Regions from separate parts of the Homo sapiens genome. Here all the other regions are linked to region 2. The links come from fine-mapping of genetic effects on gene expression. A gene starts in region 2. Each other region holds a variant in brackets. All regions are shown on one strand. Distances are from middle to middle.

Region 1 (8,185 bases), 52 kb after region 2:
ACACCTAGAAATAGAGTGCTACTATACCAAAAATCTAAAGCATGAGGCGTTGACTTTGAAACCACTGTCTAGCAGCAGCTGAACGGGCTTTGAGGAGACTGTTATCATCTTAGGCTGGAGAAGGCTGTTGGTGGGGACTTGCAGACAAGCAAGGAAAATGTCATTAGAAGCTGGAGGAAAGCAAAATCATTTTGCCTAGTGGTGAAAGTCTGGCCACACTGTCACATGTGGTAATGTGAAAAAAACAGAAAATGTTGGATGAAAAATGTGGTACATATACACCCTGAATACTACTCAGTCATTAAAAGGAATGAAATCATGTCTTTTGAAGAAACTTGGATGGAGCTGGAGGCCCTTATTCTATGGAAGTAACTCAGGAGTGGAAAACTAAATATCGTGTGTTCTTACTTATAAGCGGGAGCTAAGCTATGAGGATGCAAAGGCATAAGAATGATGTCCTGGACTTTGTGGAGGAGTTGGGAGGTTGGTGAGGGGTAAAAGGCTACATATTGGGTACAGTGTACAGTGCTCTGCAGATGAATACTCTAAAATCTCAGAAATCATCACTAAAGAACTTATCCCTGTAGCCAAAAACCAACTGTACTCCAAAAACTATTAATAAAAAAATTAAAAATACACAATGAGAAAATGATAATTACAAAAAAATTTTAAAAGTAGAAAATATGCTTAAGGAATTTGATGATCTAGCTAAGCAAATTTCCCCAGAAAATATTAAAAGAGCCACTTGACTTTTTCTTTCTGTCTGTGATAAAATGCAAGAGAAGAGAGATGAGCTCAATTCTTGACCCAAAGAAGCTGCGAGCATGATAAAATGGTCATTTTCAGCTACCAAGTTTTGGGGTTATTTTTAGCACAGCAGTAGTAACTGGATCAACACCTCGAAGGATTATCGAGAGGGTTAAATAAGACATGTACATAAAGCAACGAGCATGGTGTTTGGCAAAAGAAATGCTCAATGAATGGATCTTAAGGTTAACTCTTCGACTGATTTGGCTTTGCTTAAAACATTTAGCATGGCACTGGAGTGTGCAAGAGGTGCTTAACATATGCTCGTTGACTTGAATTGAGGACAGACTCGAGGACAGAAAAGATGAGTTTGCAAAAAAAACCCACAATCTTATTTTCCTGACCTGAGACGGAATTTTAAAAATATTATTAGAAGTTGTATTCTTGTTACAGTCTATGAAATTCTAAAATTTATCTTGGGAAGAGATCAGACTATACAATTCATTTAATCCTTGCCTTTTCAGCTAAGTCTAGAGTAATAAAATTGTAAATGCCTGGGTTTGGTGAATAATAGTTAATTTGGGCCCAGGCATGGTGACTCAATCACATAATCCCAACACTTTGGGAGGCCAAGGTGGGAGGATCCCTTGAGCCCTTGAGCCCAGGAGTTCAAGACCAACCATAGGCAACATGGTAAAAACCCATCTCTGCAAAAAATTAGCTGGGTGTGGTGGTGTACATCTGTAGTCCTGGCTACTTGAAGGAGGGGATGCTGAGATAGAAGGATAGCTTTGAACCTGGGAGGTTGAGGCTGCAGTGAGCTATGATCATGCCACTGCACTTCAACCTGGGTGACACAGTGAGACCTGGCTCAAAAAAAAAAAAAAAAAGTTAATTTGGGAAATGAGGGGTCTTGACTATCAACTGTGGATATGGATATTGCAGTGGTCCACATCTGATTCAACCTTCACTGCAACTATAAAGTTAGTGAGATTTTCTCCCCTCTCATTGAATCTTACACATCCTTAAACCCTTTCCACAATCTAGCCTCATGCCCATCGTCCTCTGTCCACTACTGTAACCTACTACATCCCATCCTGCAGAGTCAAACACAGGAAGGAATTTTTATACTTAAAGCGTTTAAAAATTTTCCTGGAGACAAAAACCCCACTTAAAATATGGCAGTATATGAATCACAAGTATGAAAATCTCTTACTATAAAAACAGTCACTAACTTCTCACATACTTTGTCACAGTTGGTGCAAGAGACAATGCACTGCGACCGATGAGGCTTGCAGGGTCCCTAATCTGTGAAGTCTTCACTTCTCAGGAAGGAGGCCAAGTGACCACTGCAGACAGCTCACTTAGAAGGAATTTGAAGAGTTCAAACTCAAGCAGTAAAAATGCATTCTGATGCCTCTGTTGCATGTCTGATAAATGGTCTTTCTCTCATTACCCAGTGAGAAATCTTGTCTAGAAACTTAGCTCTTCTTGCACTAACGTGCTGTCTTGCTCCTGCTAATGAACTGCTTGGAAAATTTCAACTTCCGCCTTGAAACCCTGGTAGTGGCTGGAGTCCTCGCTAACTATGACAGACTTCTCTAACAGTTCACACTTAGGGCTCCATAAATTACTTGTGCCAGCAATCTCCATCACCAAGCCAGACCAGTGTTTCAGAGCACTCTAATACTTTCACCAGACCCCCTAATTAATGCTTGCCCACTTGGCCAATGGTATCCCTTCAGAACATCTGCCTTTACATAGACATTTCCTGGCATCTGCCTTACCTGTTGAATGAGACTAGGTTTATTCTGGCCAAGCAAGTCATGTGGAATCAAACAATAGTAACGTGAGGATGAAAAGCTTCCCTGTTATTTATGTATTTATTATTTCAGAGACAGGGTCTCACTGTGTCATTCAGGCTGGAGTGCAGTGGCTGCAGTCATAGCTCACTGTAGTCTCAAACTCCTGGGCTCAAGTGATTCTCCTGCCTCGACCTCCCAAAGTGCTGGGATTATAGGTGTGAGCCACCATGCCTGGCCGCTGTTCTTTAAATGGTTCTATTCCATAGCTATAAAAAAACAAATTAAATAAGCAAATTCCTTTGCTCCTTGAACTTCTCCTTTAGAGAAGCAAAAAGAGGTTTCAAAATATCTGTAAAATGAGGTGAAAGGCCATACCTTTCTGTCATCTGAATAATGATATTCCTACTGAGAAAAGGGCAAATAGTAAATAATTTCTTTTCATACTAAAGATATATAAAACATGGCTTTAAAATTTATCTCTGCAATACTGACCCAAAATTATTTTGGTGCTAGGGAAAATATTTTCCCTAGAACTAAAATAATAACAAAAGGCAGGGGAATAGGCCGGATACAGTGGCTCAGCACTTTGGGAGGCCAAGATGGGTGGATCACCTGAGGTCAGGAGCTTGAGATCAGCCTGGCCAACATGGCAAAACCCCGTCTCTCCTAAGAAATACAGAAAAAAAAATATTTGCCGGGCATGGTGGCGAATGCCTGTAATCCCAGCTACTCGGGAAGCTGAGACATAAGAATTGCTTGAACCCAGGATGCAGAGGTTTCAGTGAGCTGAAATCATGCCATTGCGCTGCAGCCTGGGCAGCAGAGTGAGACTCTGTCTCAAAAAAAAAAAAAAGGAGGAGAATAAAAAAGATAAAAAAGGAAGAAACACTTCTACATGAAGACTGATCTCCTACCTGTTTTTAATTCAAGAAGCACTCTCTGAGGAGAGGGGATGGGGAAAGAAGGATAAACCATTAAGGTCCATCGTCCTATTCCATTAGGAGAAAACTCTGAGAGATAATGAGACAGAAAGGCTCGACAGGTTTCCCCAAGGACAAAGCCAACTAGTTGCTTCAAGCAGCAGCTCCAGAAGAGCAACTATAAATTTCTTAGATCTCACACCCATTAAAATTCTAG[G/C]AAAAGGAGGCTAATTTTGCAAGTAGTCAGCTCGAACTTCCTGTTATGTGTGCCTCTTATAAAATGACGCGAAGAGGATTATATGACAGGAACAGTTGAATAGCTACAGCAAAGTTTCCAGGTTCTCGTAAAGACTATGTAAACAGATTCATCTTGAGAAGTCTACAGTTTTTTTGTTTTGTTTTGTTTTGTTTTAAATAATTAATTAGATTTAAGCACAAAAGGAACTATTTAAATAATTACCAAAGGTACTACCAATGCTGTTATATAAGTGATATCTCTGCTGCATACCCACTGGTACTGCTATGCCCTGTCGAATATGTATAAAAGAGGCATATTATCAAGAGAGGACTAGCTTTTGTAGATTGAAGACCCAGTGAAAATGGGAAGTAAATCTCTGGCCAGAGTAGTCAAAGTAATTAGGAAAGGAGAAGAAACAAGATGTTTTGACCACCAGTGAGGGTGATTAGGTGCAATGGTAGATCATTTCCAAAGATGGTTGCCAATAATTGCCACAGTCCCTGAATGTGCAAGCCACTCCTTTCATCAAGATTCATCAATCTATCTCTCTCCCCCTTGAATCTGGGCTATGCTGTATCTTGCTTTGACCAAGAGAACATAATGGAAGTGATGGGACATCACTTCACCTAGACTTCTAAGCCAAGGCCTTAAAAGAACTTGTAGCTTCCACTTTCGCTTTCTTGGAAGCCATTTATTATAGGCTAGACTATAACATGGTGAGAAACCACATGGAGACAGTGGTCTATGCCTGTAATTCCAGTGCTTTGGGAGGTCAAGGCAGGAGAATCGCTTGAGGCCAGGAGTTCCAGGCCAGCAAAACCCAATCTCTATAGAAAATAAAACATTAGCTGGACATGGTGGTGTGTGCTTGTAGTCCCAGCTACTTGAGAGACTGAGGCAGGAGGATCACTTGAGCCCAGGAGTTCAAGGCTGCAGTGAGCTATGACTGCACCACTGCACCCCAGCCTGGGCCACAGAGCAGACCCCTCTCTCTGAAAAAAAAAAAAAAATTTAAAAAGAAAAGAAACAGAGGCCGAGCCAGTCCCATCACCCAGCTGAGGTACCAGATGTGTGAACGACCAACCTCAACTTGAATGTTGCTGCCTCAGCAGAAACTAAATGCAGCTACAGGAGTGACCATAGCACGCACTCACTGGAGCAGAAGAACATCTCAACTGAGCCCAGCGAATTATGAGAAATAACAGTCTTTAATAATAGATGGAGAATTGAAATAGGTTCTCTGTCCCCAGTGACAATGAAGAGCTAGTTTGACAACATATGTGCCTTGATTGGTGAGTAGACCAGATGTGTGGACAAACTTCTGGGTAAGTCAGTGGCTTCCTGAAAGATGTGCAGTTTATTAGTCCATTTTCATGCTGCTGATAAAGACATATGCAAGACCGGATAATTTATAAAGAAAAAGAGGTTTAATTGACTCACAGTTCCACCTGGTCGGGGAGGCCTCACAATCATGGCGGAACGCGAAAGGCATCTCTTACATGGTGGCAGACGAGAGAAAAACGAGAACCAAGTGAAAGAGGTTTCCCTTATAAAACCATCAGATCTTGGGAGCCTTATTCACTACCACAAGAACAGTATGGGGGAAACCATCCCTGTAATTCACCTCCCACCAGGTCCCTCCCACAACACATGGGAATTATTGGAGCTACAATTCAAGATGAGATTTTGGTGGGGACACAGCCAAACTATATCAGGCAGTAAAGCGGTATCCATCCAAGCCACCAGAACGCCATTGCCAGTTCTGACACGATGAAGAAAGAGCAGACAAACTGGGATTGAGTTGAAGGGTTTTCTGAACACTTCCAAACTTAGACCGTATGGCAGAATCCCAGAAAGCTGAACGATACAACACAGAAACAATAGCTCATTCCTGTTTGCAGGGTTTGGGGGAAGGGACTAAAATGGCAGTCTTTTGAAAGGTGCAAGGAATACAGATAGGTGACGGGGGAAATTGATACAGAGACATGAAGGCAAGCAAAGCTAATAAGCCAGTCATCAGAGGGGCGCTGGGGAATCTCTGGGAAATCTCTGGAAATACACGGCAGAATGACGCAAGCCACTCGAAAAGGAAGCCAGAATGAATGACTATGTTCATGCATATGCAAACATGTATACATATGCATGGACGCCGATGGTTTTCTGGGAATGCTGCAAAAGGAGTAGAATGTGCCCCTTGGTATATTCCAGGAAACTGATTTCCCAGGGAAGGCAAAGTAAGAAGTACATGGAATAGGCTGGGTGTGGTGGCTCACACCTGTAATCCCAGCACTTTGGGAGGCCAAGGGGGTGGATCACAAGGTCAGGAGTTCAAGACCAGCCTGGCCAAGCTGGTGAAACCCCATCTCTACTAAAAATACAAAAAATTAGCCCGGCATGGTGGCAGGCACCTGTAATCCCAGCTACTCGGGAGGCTAAGGCAGAGAATTGCTTGAACCCAGGAGGCAGAGGTTGCAGTGAGCTGAGATCGTGCCACTGCACTCCAGCCTGGGCAACAGAGCAAGACTACACCTCAAAGAAAAAAAAAGTGCATGGATTAAAGTTTACAGGTGAGGTCCACGGACATTTTTGGTGAAACCGAACTCACAAGCTGTGATCATTGCCAACTAAGCAGTCAGACATGAAGCAATCTTATCTCAAAACTGCAGAACATTTCCTGACAGAAAAGATACACACAAGTCTAATGGATGGGAAGCTTTGCAGTGAGAAAGCCACATCTTCTCACTTCTGCATGGCACACCACTCTATGGGCTAGTCAAGTGACAAGCTGATTAATGCATCAGAGTTCCCCAGAAACTGCTAAGACACTGAAAACTGTTTCATGAGAACACAAATTTTATTCAGTAATGAGACTAAATATAATAACTGAGAAGAATGTTATTGCAAAATATCAGGCAAATGAATTATTGTTTTCATGACAAAGGTCTTCAAAGCGACAAGAGAGAGATTGTATATTAAGCAACTTTAGTAAAATATTCTGTATGTAATGAAATAAAAAAATTTAAATTGGGATTTGCACATCCTTGTTTTTGTGTCTAGATCAGGTTCTTGAAAAACCAACTTAATTGTGTATATAATTGATATTTATTAAAGTATAGATTTTAAAATATTACCCTATTAAATTGTTCACAGTGTTGAGGCATTTCCACTGCTTTGTTGTCAAAAACACACGTCTAACTTCTAATAATTCCTTAAAAGTTTCCTTAATTTTATTTTCCCTTCTATATTTCCACACTAGTGAACAAATTCATTTGGTAGAAATGGTATTTTAGAGATGATATTCAAGTACGTATTATACTTGGATGAAAATAAACAAAGTAATGATGACTTGTTTTTGAGTCTTTCAATTTTTTCATTCTTACTGTGGCTAGAGTACGACTATTCTAATAAAAACATCCTGTTTTAAAGAATCAAAACATAGCAAATGTATCACATTATATCGAGATTTGAATTTAAGATAATGAAAATTATTGCAAATAAAATAACAGCTTGTATTTGGCAATCTGTAGCCAGAGACTATGATATGACAAATAAAAATATTTTTAATCAGAGAAAAAAATATTGGAAAAGAATTTCCTTCTGTTAGCACAATTAATTTATAAAATGCTGGTAAATATCTACCCTTTACAGTGTGACGCTATCTATAAAGCTTTGCAGTTATTTAATTCATAAAGCAACTCTCCTTTTACAGGTAGCAAAAAAGAGATACTAAAAAACTGGCCTGTGGTCTCACAACCCACAAGGAACTTGGGACTCTAAAGTTGAACCTCTCACAGCACTAACCGCAAACAAGAGTTTTGGTGGCCTTTGTGATACCAGAGAACAGCTTCTCTTTTCTGTTCTAGTGCTTCAAGTTGACAGTGTTGCTAATGATTTAGGATCAAGATCATTAATTCTACACATTTTACTACATTAAAAAAATTTTTTTTGAGACAGGGTCTCACTGTGTCATCCAGGCTGGAGTGCAGTGTCACAAATACAGCTCACTGCAGCCTTGATTTCCTGGGCCCAATCAATCCTCCTGCTTCAGCCTCCTGTGTAGCTGGGACCACAGGCACGTGCCAACATGCCCATCTGATTTTTTTTTTGTAGAGATGGGGTCTTGCTATGTTGTCCAGGCTGGTCTCGACCTCCCAGGCTCAAGCGATCCTCCTGCCTCAGACTCCCAAAGTGCCAGGATTGCAGGTATGAGCCACTATGCCCAGCCCATTTTTGAAATAACATATGGAAAGCAGAGTTATGTTAGCAAAAATTCTTAAATTTGTAATGCCAACATTTCAGCAATTCTTTAGCTGGGGAAAAAAAGAAGTACTAATAGTGCAAATTCTTGGTTAAATAATTTTAACTAGCAATAAATTATCATTGTATAATATTTGAAAAAAGAAGGGAATGTTAAAAGACAATAATCCTGCCCAGAGACATCGTACAAAATTTTAGCAGCTGGATAGAAGTATTGC
Region 2 (8,185 bases):
TGGAATAATAAACACTGGAGACACAGAAAGGTGGGAGAGTGAGAGTGAGGGGAGAGCTGAGAAATTATCCATTGGGTACAATGAGTACACCCTATTTGGGTGACGGTTGCACTAAAATGCCGACTTCACCACTAGGCAATATATCCATGTAACAAAAATGCACTTTACCCCCTAAACCTATTTTGAAAAATTTTTAAATTAAAAATGTCAAGTGCTTAGATCAGTGTCTGGCCCATAAGAAGAGTTCATTAACTGTTGGCTCTCCTTATTCCTACCAGCATTATTACCATGAGGCTCATGTGGGAAGATCAGACCAGCTCCAGAAAAATGAAGAAATTACAATTTCTCTATACAACCAAGTAGTATGGTGGATTAAAACTTGCACCCCTGCTCCATAAATAACCAAAATCATAAATGATAAAGGGGACATAAAATAAATCAAAACATAAAGAGGCTTTTACAAACACAGAATGGTATAAATTTTAGAAAGCTTAATAAAATGGGCCATATTCAGAATTATGAGTTACCTATATTAGCCCAAGAAGTATGCCAAGTAGAAAAGAAGTATGTCAAAAGAAAGTGAAAAATTCATCAAAGATTACCTCTAAAAACGACCTGAGATCAAACCATTTAATGAGTACATTCTTTCCAACTTTCCCCAAGGGTCAACCCTCGAATGTGTAATAGCCACAGGACTCGGGAAAAGATGGAATGCTTCTCAGCTCATCAAGAAAGCTAGGCTACCTATAGTACACCAACCTGAATAGAATAAAACTATAGGACACTATTTTTCTCAAAAGCTTTTGTTACTCCAGGAGGTCCTAGTGCCTCTAATATGCTGTGAAATTCCAATGAGGGGGTGGCAGGCAGTGGTGTTCCTCAATTCAGGGTTTATCCAGCCACTTCCAGACCCTTCTTAGAGCCGTGCTAGAGCTTCCTGGAGTTACACCATCAGAAGATTAAGGTGGATCCAAGAGCCAAGAATATAGAGAAGCATACGCAGAAGAAAAGGGATTTGCAAGAGATAAAAAGAGGAAAAGAGACCGTATAGCAGATTGCAATCATAATAGCAATGCTAAGGCAGGAAGCAGTACATTCTGCTTGTGAAAATGTAAATTGATTCAGCCCTTCGAGGAAGCAACTGACAATGTGACTTAGAATCTAAAGAGTACATACTCTTTGACTTACTAATCTCAACTCCTGTCTGTCCATCTTGGGTAATTAATTTGAAATGAAGATAAAGATTTACATACAAGGATGCATTTCATAGAATTACTGATGGCAAACAAAATAAAACAGAAACAAGAAGCAACCTAAATGTCTGAAAATGGAAACTATTAAATAGATTATGGCATGTTCAGATAATAAGTTATGCAACAATCCAAAGCAATGTTTTTGTGGGGGGAGGGGAATGTAATGACAGGTATAGGTCTAGGATTTTTAGAAAAAAGGCAGAACATAAACTGCAATGTATAATCTAAGTTATATTTTTGAAATATATGTATATAGAAAAGACTACTGGAAGAAATATAGACCAAAACCACCTTGAATATGGTCTCTGAGAGGTAAGGACTCTGAATGAATAACATTTTCTTTTATACAGTTCTATTTTCTAACTTTCTGCACAAAGCTGTATTACTTTTACAATCTGAAAAAAAAACAATTACTGCCTATGAATAAAAACACATGTGAATGATAAGAAAAAAAATTTAAGCCTCCAGTCACTAAGGACAAAATCATTCCTAGCACGCAAAACAAACCTGAATCTTAACACCGGTGCCCTTTAAAGCATAGAAAAGAAAAAGCAAACCAACCAAATCCCTCCATAAAGACAGGCTGAGCTGCTTCTCTCCAAAGGTGGCGGGGTCGGGGGCGGGGGTGCTTTCAACACACCATTGTCGAGAGGAAAACTCAGCACCCGTTTTTCAAATGCAGCTGCTGGAGGATCCCCCTTGATTCAAAGACCATTCACATCCAGGCTTAGAGGGTTGAGGGAGTGTGAAGGGTGCCCCCCCCCAACCCCGCGCCCTCTTCAAACACACGCACACTCTTACACTCACTCGCGCCGTCCCAGCCTGCCTACTCCCAACGAGTCCAAGCCGGTGCAGCCGCGCCCCATGCCCGGCTCGCAGCTCCCGAGCCCCAGTCCGCCCGCGCTGGGCGCCGCTGTACCTGTTAGTGGCGCGCGGTACCGCGGTCGCCGGGCTCCGGAGCGTCCTCAGCGCTGCGGGGGTGCCGTGGGTGGCCTCCCTGCTTTCCTCCACCAGAATCCTGCACAGCCGGGGAGAAAACTTAAGTTGCTACACCCCGCCGGGAGCTGTTGGCTGAAAGGCTGGGAGTCGCGCTCCTTGCCTGGCAGGGAGATCTCGCACTCCCCGGCTCCCAGGCCAGGTCCCCAGCCCCAGAGTTGGAAGAGCCTTAGGGCGGGAAGGAAGAGACAGCAAGGACCAGAATGGGGAGCATGAGATCCTGATGCGGAACCCGACGGCAGGTCCCGCTCCACAGCTGCCTCGCCCACAGCGATGCGCGCTAGAGCCCCCGCAGCCCTGACCGGTCCCTCTGCTCCCCAGCCGCCGTCCACCGGTCGGAGGGTCGCCTCCCTGCGACCCCCTCCCCCACTCCACTCTCAGGCCGTCGCCGCCCGTGGGCTGCTCCCCGCCGCGGCCAAAAGTCTCCGCGCCCGAGGGGAAGCGATGGGCGGCTTGGGGGTCCGGGGGCGCCAGGCGGGGCGCGCGGCGCGGGGCGCGGCCGGCGGGTGGGTGGGTTACCTGGCGCGGCCGGGCGCGTCTGCCGGGCACCAGAGCAGGCGCAGCAGCAGCAGCAGCAGCAGGCTGGCGAGCAGGGCGAGCAGTGCGCCCCCCGGCCGCATCCTGAGCCACAGGCGCCGCCGCCACCGCTGCTGCCGGGGCGAAGCACAGCCCGGGCGGCCCCGACTCGCGGCTCCCGCCGCCGCCGCCACCGCCGCCGTGGCCGCAGCCCCGCGCACCCACAGCGTTCACAGGCGGCAGCGAGGGGCGCCCGCAGCCCACCCGGCAGAGTCTCCGCGGCGGGCGGAGAAGAAGCCGCGTTCGGGCTCGCCCCGGGCTCCCGGCCCCGGCCCGCGGAGCGCCGCGATCGGCTGGCAGATGACGATTCGCCGAGCTCGCCGCCTGTCCTCCCGGAGGCGCTCGGAGCTGCTGCGGGCTCCGGTCGCCGCTGCCACTGCTGCTGCCGCCGCCGCCGCGCGGGGTCACCTGAAGGTTGGGGCGCGGAAGCTCAACTCCGTGCTGATTGGGCTCCAAGTTTTCTGCGCCCTCGCCTCGTCCCGAGTGCCCGCGAATCCCCCGGACGCCCACGCAGACCACCCAGCCACACCACAACTCTGCCTGCGGAGAGAGGAGAGGAGAAAAAGGGGCCGCTTCAAAAACTTTCAAAACTGTGCAGTCGCTTGGCTGGATCCTCCCACGCATGAAGAAAGCTGGGGACTGGGGAATTGCTGGGTGGATCATGACACTGAACAGAAGCAGTAACCTGTGCTTACTTCAACCCAGATTCAGAGGGACAGCGAACTGGTATGAGGGGCTAGGAGACCTTTAGGCATGAGCACATTACTACCTGGAGACCCGTTTAGCCCCTGCCTGTATTTGCAAATAGTTTTATTGGAAAACCTCCATGCCCATGGCTTTGTATTATCAGTGACTGCATATGGCTGTATGATCTAGGGCTGCAAGGGCAGAATTGAGTAGTGATGACAGAGGTGGCATAGCCCACAGGGCCTAAAATATTTACCATTTGAAACTTTCCAGGAAAAGTTTGCATACTGCTCTTAAATAAGCAAGAGGCCATTAGCTTGAGGCTGTCTCTGTACGTTGAGTTCCCACCTAACAATGGAAACCTACATTAGGCTGTAATGAACAGGGGGCTACTGGCCAATCATGGGCAACCAACTCATTATACCAGGCCCCACAAGGCAGCCTGCATAGCTATAGCCAATCAGTTTCTCCACTGTGCTTCTGAGTTTGGCCTATCAGGCTTTGCTGCTCACACCATGGGGTGGACCTCACTGGACCTCCTCTGGTTGTGAGTGCTGCCCAATTCATGAACCCTTTGCTCGAATAAACTGTGCTAAATTTAATTTGTCTGATGTTTTTCTTTTAACACTGCTATGGGCTGAATGTTTGTGTCTCTACAAAATTCATATGTTGAAACCCAAATCCCCAATCTAATGTGGTGGTATCTGGAGGTGGGGCCTTTCATACCTGATTAGTTCATGGGGTGGAGGCTTCCTGGTGGAATTAGTTCCCTCATAAGAGCAGGCAGCGGGGAATTTGCCTCCTCTCTCTCTGCTCTGTGCAGTGTAAAGACACAGCACGAGGGCAGCTTTCTGCCAAGCAGGAAGAGGACCCTCACCAGAACCTGACCATGCTGGCACACTGATCTTGGGTTTCTTACCCTCCAGAACTGTGAAAAATAAATTTCTGTTCTTTCGGTCACCCAGCCTATGGTATCCTTCTTATGGCAGCCAGAACTAAACCACGGTCTAGATCATATTGGTTAGTATCTCATTTACGAGTATCTCATCTGTTGCAGGAGAGTGATCCAATGACACTATGAAACAGACTGGCTCTCTATTTTTTTAAAAGTGGGTCTCAACTCTCTATGCCCTAAACTATCCTGACTGCCCAAGCCCCCACTTAGCCACTTCCCTAGGTTTTAATTCCATTGTGGTTATATGCAGGCTTATAAAATTATTCACTCTTACTTTTGTATAGTTTCGAGATTTTTCCAAATGCAACCCTTGGATTCCACCATCTTGGGAGTACCTTGATAAGATCTTTTGAAATGACTTCAATTTTGAAAAGGCTTTCATGAGTTAACTTTCCCAAGCAACAAAAATATGATATTTCAACTGACATCTCCTAGAAGCATATGGTCTTCACCTGAAAGAGGCCCAAGTGAGAGCCATTTGGGAGCAACCAGGCCAGACAGCCAAATAAAGCTGTCACCAAAGATTCCATCACAAGAAAACATATATCAAGGCAAGAGATACCAGTGTCCCTAGTCTCTTTCTGCTAATTCCGGATTTACTCTAAAAACATCTTGTTGAATACAAAACAGAAGTTTGCACATAATAATTGATCAATAAATGTTTAGTCAATGAATAAAAGCACATAAGAACTAGTGTTATTTTTAAAGAGAAAATGGAGCAAAAAAACTAAAAATAAATGTGACTAGGAATGTGATTTCCTTCTATAGCTCATCACTGCTGTTAATATATGTACTAATCAGGAATAAAAACAGGCTTCTACTTTTATATAAAACTAATATTTGTAGGGATTCAGTTGCTTCATCTGAGTATGACATAAAGTAATGCTATACTCAGGTAGTGATAGAATAATACAGAAATCTAGTTCTACATATTTCAAAGTTTAAGCCGTTTGTTAAATAAGTAGAATATGGCACAATCATCTAGAAAATGAAGAGTTGCCTGGATTTGAAAGATATTCCAATTTTTATCTCAGTGCAGAAAATTGTGCAGAAAACTAATGCTGAACATGGTTTGCAGAAAAAGAAAAAGGCATTATTGTATCAGCCAGGAAGCTGCAATTTCACCTAATTTACTAAAGTTTAATATTTCAGCACAGCTGGGCTCAAGGCAACAGCAGAAGAGTCAGCCTTGCACTGGGTTCCCTAAACACCCTTGCTGCAAATGAAGTTACTTTTTATCAAGCCAATGGCTATCAGCAGGGGACTCACAAAAGCCCATTTTAATTGGAAAAACAAGTGTAAATTTGCAATGGGAATTCTGAGCCCAGTGTTAAAATTTGACAGTAGGGAACTTTACCACAAGCTTTCTAATTTAAGACCTGGGTGGGTAAGATATGAATTATCTTGCTCATCCTTGAGAGAGAAAGAAACCTGACAAGAAAATGATACCTTAACATTATTAGCCATAGAACCACTACTGGAAAAGTGTGCATTTGGTAGCTTAACATTTCCAGGCTTGACTTGCAACCCTAAAGATCTATGCCATGTAGTAATTTGAAATGCTGCTGAGGCCAGGAATTGAAACGTAAACTCAGGTTGACATCCGGATGCTGCTCCCAAGCTTGTGTAAGTGGCGAGCCTACCTCACTCACCCAGTCCACTCCACATGGGCCTCTCATTTTGTCTTTGTTATTCTTTATTCATCATCATGAATGTCCTTACCTTCATAAAATAACTTTTAAAAAATGATTGGGAAGTTTCGATATATAAAAAGTCTCCAGGCCTATGGAAATCTTGAAAGTTGAAGTTTCTGATTTGGAGTGTAAGGTTTCTTATTTGGCTAACAAGTGACTTTCCACAAAAAAGATGATTCAGGGGAAAGCTAGAAACGTGTAAGATTTCCATAAGTGTGGATTTGGGGATTCAGAAAGATGAATCACAAATATCAAGAGTCTACCTGACATTTGATATATACATAATATATATGTATATACACTATATACATAATACATAATGTACAGAATATATAGCATTATATACATATTGTGTATACACATTATGTATACACATACGTATTATGTATACATATTATGTATATATTATATACATAGTATATACTACATATATACATAATATATACTACATATATAATATATAATGTATATATACACACTAGATACATTATACTATATATGTATGTATATATACATTATACATTATGTATATATATACTATGCATATACATTCCATATAATTATGCATATGCAAATTGTTATATAATATTATGTATATATATTATGTATATTATATTATATTGTGTATATACATGATTATATATTATGTATATAATATAAATGTATAGAAACTATATATACATATATTTGTTTACATAGTATGTATATATACTGATAGCTATAATGTATCTCCATAATTTTTTTCCTTATATTGAAGATTCTTACTGATATATAACAGTGAATGAGTGTACATAGATATGCTATATCTCTACATAGATTATGTGTATATATACACACACTATATAAATAAATATGTGTATATAGAATGCATATACATGTATACTATGTATATACACACTAAATACATAGCAGATACAAATATATCTCACTGGTATATATGAACATCTTCAATATAAGGAAAAAAAGGAATGCTGTGAGAAACGCACAAAAAATTGATGCACCAAAGACTCTTTTCTTCATTCGGGAGACATTTTTACCTCTCTGTTTAGAAAGGATGATTTCTGATGTTTCAGACTGCTTGACTGGTTTTTGTAACGTTAAAGATTTGTGAGGACTACAGGACAATAGGTCATTTATAACATTAAGCTATACCTTGGGGAGGACGTTTATAAGACTATGATAACCAAGACTACATATTTTCTTTTTTTTTTTTTCTTTTTTTTTTTTTTTTGAGACGGAGTCTCGCTCTGTCGCCCAGGCTGGAGTGCAGTGGCGGGATCTCGGCTCACTGCAAGCTCCGCCTCCCGGGTTCACGCCATTCTCCTGCCTCAGCCTCCCAAGTAGCTGGGACTACAGGCGCCCGCCACTACGCCCGGCTAATTTTTTGTATTTTTAGTAGAGACGGGGTTTCACCGTTTTAGCCGGGATGGTCTCGATCTCCTGACCTCGTGATCTGCCCACCTCAGCCTCCCAAAGTGCTGGGATTACAGGCGTAAGCCACCGCGCCCTGCCAGACTACATATTTTCAATAAGTCATAGGACATAAGTAAAAGTAGAAATGACTTGAAAAAATCAATGACCTCAGTATCTCTCCAAATATGTCTTATTACAGATTTTTGACCGCTGTTAGTGGAATATTGAAGATTGGGGGCCAGGCGCAGTGGCTCACACCTGTAATCCCAGCACTTTGGGAGGCTGAGGTGGGCAGATCGCTTGAGCCTAGGAGTTCGAGATCAACCTGGGCAATATAGCAAAACCCCTCCTCTATAAAAAATACCAAAAGAAAAAAAAACTAGCAGGGCATGGTGGTGCACACCTATGGTCCCTGCGACTCTAGAGGCAAAGGTGGGAGGATCACTTGAGCCCAGAAGGTGGAGGTTGCAGTGAGCTGAGATGGCACCACTGTACTCCATCCTGGGTGATGGAGTGAGGCTCTGTCTCAAAAAATAATAATAATAATAATAAAGTAATTCTATGCATAAAGTAGTTTTAATTTAAAGAGTATAACTAAAACTACGGGACTA
Region 3 (8,185 bases), 110 kb after region 2:
GGGAAGAGGCGTTGCTAGTAAGCATGTTCTGGGTGGTCTTCTGGGTGCACATGTACAGTAGCTGTACATGCTTCTTCATACATCATATGTCTCATTAGCATCTTAAATCTCCACACTGGGGTGTGTTTTTTACTATTATAATGATCAAAGGGTGAGTTTGAGGACAGGTAAAATCAAAATATGTGTGCACTCTCGAGGAGAAAGTCCCTACTGAAGATAACTTTGCTTGAATGAGCTCAACTACAATGCAAATGCTGAGGCTTATTGTGTTGACTGTACAGTCACCACGGTTGCTACGTCCCAAGAACGTGGTCATTTCCTTGACTACCCATCTTGCCTCAAATACATTTTTTGTTTTTAGATGGAGTCTCGCTCTGTCGCCCAGGCTGGAATCAAGTGGCATTTTCTCAGCTCACTGCAACCTCCGCCTTCCCGGCTCAAGCAATTATCCTGCCTCAGCTTCTCCAGTAGCTGAGATTACAGGCACGCGCCACCATGCCTGGCTAATTTTTGTATTTTTAGGTGAGATGGGGTTTCACCGTGTCAGCCAGGCTGGTCTCGAACTCCTGACCTCAAGTAATCTGCCTGCCTCGGCCTCCCAAAGTGCTGGGATTACAGGCATGAGCCACCGCACCCAGCCATGCCTCAGAAACATTTATATCCTTATTTTTCCCTTCATCCCCTTTCCCTACTCCTTCCTGGCCTCTGGTAACCACAAGTCTGCTCCCTATCTTCATGAGTTGCACTGTTTTTAGCTCCCATACATGAGTGAGAACATGAGCATCTGCTTTTCTGTGCCTGGCTTATTTCACTTAACATAATGGCCTCCAGTTCCATCCATGTTGCTGCAAATGACAAGATTTCATTCTTATTTATGAAATAAAATTCCATAATGATATTCCATTGTGTATATATACTACATTTTCTTTTTTTACTTTTCTCTTTTTTTTTTTTTTTTTTGAGATGGAGTCTCACTCTGTCTCCCAGGCTGGAATGCAGTGGCACGATCTCGGCTTACTGCAACCTCTGCCTCCTGGGTTCAAGAATTCTCATGCCTCAGCCTCCCAAGTAGCTAGGATTCCAGGTGCCTGCCACCAACCCCCCACTAATTTTTGTATTTTTGGTAGAGACGGGGTTTCACCATGTTGGCCAGGCTAGTCTTGAACTCTTGACCTCAAGTGATCTGCCCACCTCCAGCCTCCCAAAGTGCTGGGATTATAGGCGTGAGCCACCATGCTGGCCTGTGTATGTGTATATATACTACATTTTTTTCATCCGTTCATCTGTTGATGAGAGGCTTCTTTCTGGTGGGGACTCCACAGAGTCCCAGTGGGGCACACGGTATCACATGGCCAGGGGACTGAGCACACCAACGTGCTAGCTCAGGTCTTTCTTCCTCTTTTTGTAAAGCCACCAGCTCCCCTCCCATGATAATCCATTAATCCATTAATCTGTGATGGAGAAATCCCTTCATGAGGGCCGAGCCCTCATGATTGAAACACCTCTTAAAGGGCCTGCCTCTCAATGATGCCACCTTGGGAATTAAATTTCAACCTGAGGCCAGGCACGATGGCTCACGCCTGTAATCCCAGCACTTTGGGAGGCCTAGGCGGGTAGATCACCTGAGGTCAGGAGTTTGAGACTAGCCTGGCCAACATAGTGAAACCCTGTCTCTACTAAAAACACAAAAATTGGCTGGGCACAGTAGCACGCATTTGTAGTCCCAGCTACTCGGGAGGCTGAGGCAGGAGAATCGCTTGAACCCGGGAAGCAGAGATTGCAGTGAGCCAAGATGGGGCCACTGCACTCTAGCCTGGGTGACACAGCGAGACTCCATCTCAAAAGAAAAAGAATAAATTTCAACGTGAGTTTTGGAGAAGACAAATGTTCAATATTCAAACCACAGCAACCTTTAAGAACCACACTAAATAAAGTAAATCCTTTTTTCAAATAACAGCTTTTCCACTCTTTGAAGAAAGTTGAAATAGGAATGCCAAGTCCTTTCTACCTTTGTTCTTTTCACCATTCCCCAACTTGACTTATTGCCTTTACTGCAGAATTACAGAATAAATGCCAACTCATACTTACTGATTCATAAATTCTGCAGCATGGGCCCCTGCAGTCTGTTTCAACAAGCCCTCTGGATGATTCTCACACATGTGAAAGCATGAGAACCACTGGTCTGGTTCTCTTTGCTTGATCGTCTCTCCATGGTCTTTAAAACTATGATTTTTGTCATTCATCTGCTTGCTCTAATTGTTGCAGCAGAAGCTATGACCTGCTGCTACTTACCGACTTCTGTATAGAAGCAAAAGTTTTCTGTACTTGTTCTTAATTGTTAGCATGGTATAAATGCAATGTCGCTATTTGGTAGCAAATATTATCTCCCTTTATTATGACACCAACTTTTTTTAAGGAAACTTTATTGTCAACCATGTGGTTTGGGTGACATAAATTCCATCTCTAGCCTCAGAAATGGACCCTGATTCGCACAGCCAAATTATTTCATGCACTCGTCCACAGTAATTGGTTCAAGAGCAGATACACAAACTCACTGAATCCTGCGGTGTTCGAGGGTTTCTGAAGAGAGTTGTTTTCCCCACTTCCACTGGTTTTAATGGAGGAAGGACATGTTTGAAATTGGACTTCTTTTAACTAAACCGAGGAGCCTGAAACCATCACTGGTCACTTTTTTAAGGCCTGAAAACATAGCCCACCCTGCAGTAGAACAGAGAGGTGGGATGCATGTGACATTATTTTAGCACTGAAGCAAGCGACTCCTGAACCCCACTCTACCTATGAAAATTTAATGTGCAAGAAGAGCGACCATCCGGTCACTGTAGTAGAGATGGGGTTTCACCATGTTGGCCAGGCCGGTCTCGAACTCCTGATCTCATGATCCACCCCCCTCGGCCACCCAAAGTGCTGGAATTACAGGCATGAGCCACCGTGCCTAGCCTTAATTTGCATAAGGTCTTTAAAATGCAAGAACAAATGTTTGTGATGTCCGTAGAAGTAGTAGAGGTGGTACCACTTGTAAAATTAAAGGTTAAGGATGACAGTTCTAATTTTTATTCTGTTCGTCCATGCGACTTAAACTTTATTCACATTTGTAACCTTAGATGTTAAATGGAAATAATGTTCACGACCTATTGCATTCGGTCACAATGAAGCAAAAACTACGTATTATAAATCACAAGATTAAAACAAATTACTATCTGCAATCGGCCAGGCTACATTTCCTATCCTGACACCTGAGGTTCGTAACATTACCTTGGAGGAGCCTTTTGGTACCTTTAAAAAATGGCAGTATGACTCAAAAGTGTGAAGTTGCAAAACTCATTATTTTAAGAGCATGATCCTAATATAGTAGCACAAAATAAACCCTTACCTTTCCTTTTCTGTGACACAGCTGTCATCTGGGCTTTGACCGTGGCTGTTAATTTAGTCTATGACTACTTAAATTCCAGCTGAGCCAAAGAAACCGTAGTTC[C/A]TTAAAGTCCATTTCTCAATTCAAACAACTGCCAACCACACAAGCTGTCCCTGCAATTAAGAAAATGTAAAGTGATCCCCCACAGAGAGGAATGAAGTCAAGTCAGAAGCTAGGCCAGCAAATCATTTTCGTCTTACGGCTTCCCAGAAAAGCTTTGGCAGGGGACATGACCAGACCATGAACTATGATAAATAGATGAAGGCTTGTTTGTGTCATGCCTCTATATATTCAGCGCCCGAAAGAACATTTTTCCCTGGACTGTACTAGGTTCTGGATTCCGTCCAGATTTCATATACTGCCAATATTTCTGCGGCAAGCAAATTTTATATGATAAAGAAACCCAAAGAGTTTTAGGAAGGGTCACAACATTGGGAATATCAAGTCGACACTGCTTTACTTCTGAATTTCCTTCATTATAAATTCAAATAGGCTTCAGGAAGCTTTAATTCCACTTTTCAATGCATACTTAAAACTGAGCTATAAATTTCTTTGCACTCAAAGTAATTCCTTTTTTTGTCTTTCAGCATGAAGAAATATGAATTCTATACACAATTACTGCAGTGTTTATTCAAAAAGTCACTTATCCTGTCTTCCTAAGAAGCAAAATTATTGTATTAAACACCACACTGCTACCTTCCTGACAGCATTTTTATGTGTCCTTAATTTTAATACCTCTCTAGGTTGTTCGCTTGATTAGTTTTAGGGAAAATATGAGAACCTGAATTTAGTTCACTGCCATTGATGACTCATTTTGCAACCTTGTTTAAATCAGATATTAATAATCAAATACAACGTTGTGCTCCAACAAGTCTGACGATTCAGAAGCTGTTTGGAATTCATGAAATCAATACACAAATATAGAATCATTATTGCTTTGCCAAATGAAATTTAATAGGAGGGCGTTGTTTTGGACTGAGCTCCTGCACTAAGCCCCAACAAACCAGAGCAAACCAGAATGGAGTCAGTCATGCTAAGTACCACATAGTCAAACTGAACTTTAAAATGGTTTTCCAAGGAATAGGAAACTCACCGCAGCCAGTCAAAAGGAGCCTAGTCACCCTGAATAGGCATGATGAGAAAGTTCTCTCAGCCTGAATCCTAGAAGTAGAGTAACTTGGAAATGACCAGTTGGCTTTCTGTTCCCTGTTTCTGCTTCTGCAGCTCTGTATGCCTATAAAGCCCACCTCCTCTGCTCAGCCCATTGGAGGGTCTTTTCTATTTCATAAATGAGATGCTACCTAATTCATGAATTGCTAATAAAAGCCAATTTGATATTTTAACAAAATATGTTGAAATTTTGTTCTTCAACAGCATGAACCCCAAACAATTTAGCAGCTCACAGCTTTACTAGCTCTATCTCAGTCCTCCACAATCTCTCACTACTTTCATTTGTCCATCCCCACCTCCTCATCTTCCTGCCACAGTCACACAGACACACACGCTCAGCTGTTATTTGAGAGACTGAAATCAAATCAACTGAATAAGGAAATTGAACGCAAACTTAACTGGTTGATTCTTTTTTTCATCATATACATTGTTCCCTCATCTCTGTAATACCTTTCAACTACCTACTGGGCAGAATTGATGGAAAAAATAAACATGTAGATCAATGGCATAAAATACAAAGCCCCATATAGATCCCTCTAAATGTGGATTTCTATAGTTTCAAATTATAGAGAGAGACATCACAAAGCAAAATATAATCAGCTTGCATATGCCAAAGCACGTGTGTCCACTGCGGAGGGGGTGTTGGAAGCCCATAACTATAAGGAACCAGAGAGAGGAAGAAAACTTGCAGGAGAAGCAATAGATGAAAAATAAATGTCCCTATTAGATAAACAGCTCTTTGAAATTTATTTTTAAAGCATCAAGAATTCCATAGATGCAAACGTTGAAAAAAACGGTCATCTTAGTAATCACTGTCAATGCAATTCTTTGTTTTGTTTTGTTTTGTTTTTTTGTTTTGTTTTGTTTGAGACTGAGTCTTACTCTGTCACCCAGGCTGGAGTGCAGCGGCACAATCTCAGCTCACTGCAACCTCTGCCTCCTGGGCTCAAGCGATTCTCCTGCCTCAGCCTCCCAAGTAGCTGGGTTTACAGGTGCACGCCACCACGCCCAGCTAATTTTTGTGTTTTTAATAGAGACAGGGTTTCATCATATTGGCCAGGCCAGTCTCAAACTCCTGACCTCAAATGATCTGCCCGCCTCAGCCTCCCAAAGTGCTGGGATTACAGGCATGAGGCACCACATCTGGCCATGTTAATGCGATTCTAAAGTACCATTCTATACTTTCCTGGGCACCAGCATTGTATATAATTTGTTTTAGCTATGCAGCTATGTTTTTGCCAGTGGAACATCCATGAATACTACTTCCACATCTGGCCCATAAAAACTGCCTGCATGCAAATTTGTGTGTCTCTTCTGCTGTGCTAGAGTGATAAAGACAGTCATGTTGATCTTGAAAGGCATATGTTAAAGACAGCATAGCCATAAGATAGAAGGAGCCTAGGTCCCTGGATCCACTGCACGGAGGTGGGTTATACGCCCATCCTTTTTGATTTTATGTTAACCTGCTGAGACTTCTGGATACATTGGTTAAAGTAGCTAGCTTTACTCTACTACCTGCTTTTAGTTTGAGGAGTTCCTTTTTTTTTTTTTTTAGATGGTGTCTCACTCTGTTGACCAGACTAGGCTGTAGTGCAGTGGCATGATCGTGGCTCACTGCATCACTGCTGCCTCTGCCTCCCAGCTTCAAGTGATTCTCATACCTCGGCCTCCGCAGTAGCTGAGATCATAGGTACCCACCACCACACCCGGCTAATTTTTGTATTTTTAATAGGGATCAGATTTCACCTCGTTGGCCAGGCTGGTCTCAAACTCCTAACCTCAAGTAATCCACCTGCCTCAGCCACCCAAAGTGCTGGGATTACAGGCATGAGCCACCACGCCTGTCCTAGTTTGAGGATTTCTAATTAGCTTTAGCAAGAAATGAGAAGGAAACAAGTTGGAACGCAACAGGAAAGAAAATCTCAAGTTAAAATGTTGTAGCCCCCATACAGAAAACCTTGATTCCATTCTTTCTCTTTCAATATAAACTCTTCTATTCTCTTACCTGTCATCTCCCTTCTTCCTGATTAGACTTCATTTTTTCATCTAAGAAAAAAACTTCATAGGTTTGGTTTCAAATTATCATATCAATAAACACTGAAAATACCCTACCCAATATCATAAAGAAAAACAGAATTATTGATTAACTACTCTACAGCCAATAACAGCAGGTTTCTCTTTGATGGATACATGTAAACTATCTCATAGCCCAAGATCAAACCAAAGAAAAGAAAGTCTGAGAGCTTATGGCCATAGGATGCATTCATATGTCAAAATTTAGTTGTTGTTGTTGTTGTTGTTTTTGAGATGGAGTCTCCCTCTGTTGCCCAGGCTGGAGTGCAGTGGCGTGATCTCGGCTCACTGAAACCTCCACCTCTCAAGTTCAAGTGATTCTTCTGCCTCAGCCTCCCAAGTAGCTGGGATTATAGGTATGTGCCACCATGCCTGTCTAATTTTTGTATTTTTAATGGAGACATGGTTTCACCATGTTGGCCAGGTTGGTCTGGAACTCCTGACCTCAAGTGATCCACCCACCCCGGCCTCCCAAAGTGCTAGGATTACAGGTGCATTTTTTTTTCTTTTTTTTTTTTTTGAGATGGAGTCTCTCCCTGTCACCCAGGCTGGAGTGCAGTGGTGCAATCTCGGCTAACTGCAACCTGCGCCTCCCAGGTTCAAGCAATTCTCCTGCCTCAGCCTCCTGAGTAGCTGAGACTGCAGGCACCCGCCACCACGCCCAGCTAATTTTTGTATTTTTAGTAGAGACGAGGTTTCACCATGTTGGCCAGGACGGTCTCGATCTCTTGACTTTGTGATCTGCCCACCTCGGCCTCCCAAAGTGCTGGGATTACAGGAGTGAGCCACCGCACCCGGCCCAGTCGCACTTTCTTGATGCATTTTTACAAGGGCAAAAAAGGGACAGACTCACTCCTTCCAGCCCTTTTATAAGGACACCAATCCTATCCAGTCACCTTCCAAAAGCCCCACCTCTTCATACCATCACCTTGGGCTTTATGTAACAATATAGGAGTTTTGAAGGGACTCATATGCAAACCACAGCATTTTCCCCATCAAACTCCTTCAGAACCCTATGCCTTTGGTCAGGCTGCTGTTGCCTCTGCCCAGCACAGAAAAAAATTTTAAAAATAAACAAACATCTATTTATATTTTGTGTAAATAAAATCTACGTAATCCCTCAAGACTCAGCTCCAGCCTGCCCTCCTTTGCAGAGTCTCTCCTGAGTTAATTGGCCCTCTTCCGTACTCCAATAGCATATTCGCAAAGCACTTGACATGTACATTTTTAATTGCAAGTTGATTTGTCCTTTAAAAAAAAAAAAAGACTGTAATCCCCTTGAGAGCAGGAACAACCTTTTATGCCTTCATGCCCAGAGCACAGTGTTGGCATATGGATAGTTCTTTAATAAAGTTGTTATATGGCTTAGTGAATTCTGTAGCTTAACAGCTCTTTTGAAAAATCATGCCAAAATCACTTGTTAACCGAACCCCACACCTCAAAAGTTTTTGTTTTGCTAGAAAATAGTTGAGTAGCATGGTACTAAGGTATGGTAGAGAGTAGATTTGTTTA

Which allele goes with the higher level. Positions count from the first base shown, and alleles are read on the strand shown. Sizes are in standard deviations (SD) of each study's normalised expression. Not every link is listed here.
As copies of A replace C in region 3, the expression in pancreatic islets of the gene that starts at base 3,209 in region 2 goes up (large effect, 1.3 SD a copy in PISA).

Evidence for each region.
Region 1: its variant is fine-mapped to the expression of ST8SIA6 in whole blood (TOPMed, PIP above 0.99). The same link has a PIP of 0.9 or more in T cells and blood mononuclear cells.
Region 3: its variant is fine-mapped to the expression of ST8SIA6 in pancreatic islets (PISA, PIP 0.95).

Annotation. Positions count from the first base shown.
Region 1 is chr10:17,502,921-17,511,105 of GRCh38, forward strand. No RefSeq gene overlaps it. Among named protein-coding and RNA genes, the nearest start is that of ST8SIA6, 52 kb to the left of the region's middle. The variant G/C (reference allele first, on the strand shown) is at 3,690.
Region 2 is chr10:17,451,387-17,459,571 of GRCh38, forward strand. It overlaps ST8SIA6 (ST8 alpha-N-acetyl-neuraminide alpha-2,8-sialyltransferase 6), which reads right to left and starts at 3,209. Exons shown (of 8, transcript NM_001004470.3): 1 at 2,769-3,209; 2 at 2,173-2,271. The coding sequence starts at 2,869.
Region 3 is chr10:17,559,208-17,567,392 of GRCh38, forward strand. No RefSeq gene overlaps it. Among named protein-coding and RNA genes, the nearest start is that of HACD1, 54 kb to the right of the region's middle. RefSeq lists an enhancer at 3,443-3,737. The variant C/A (reference allele first, on the strand shown) is at 3,494.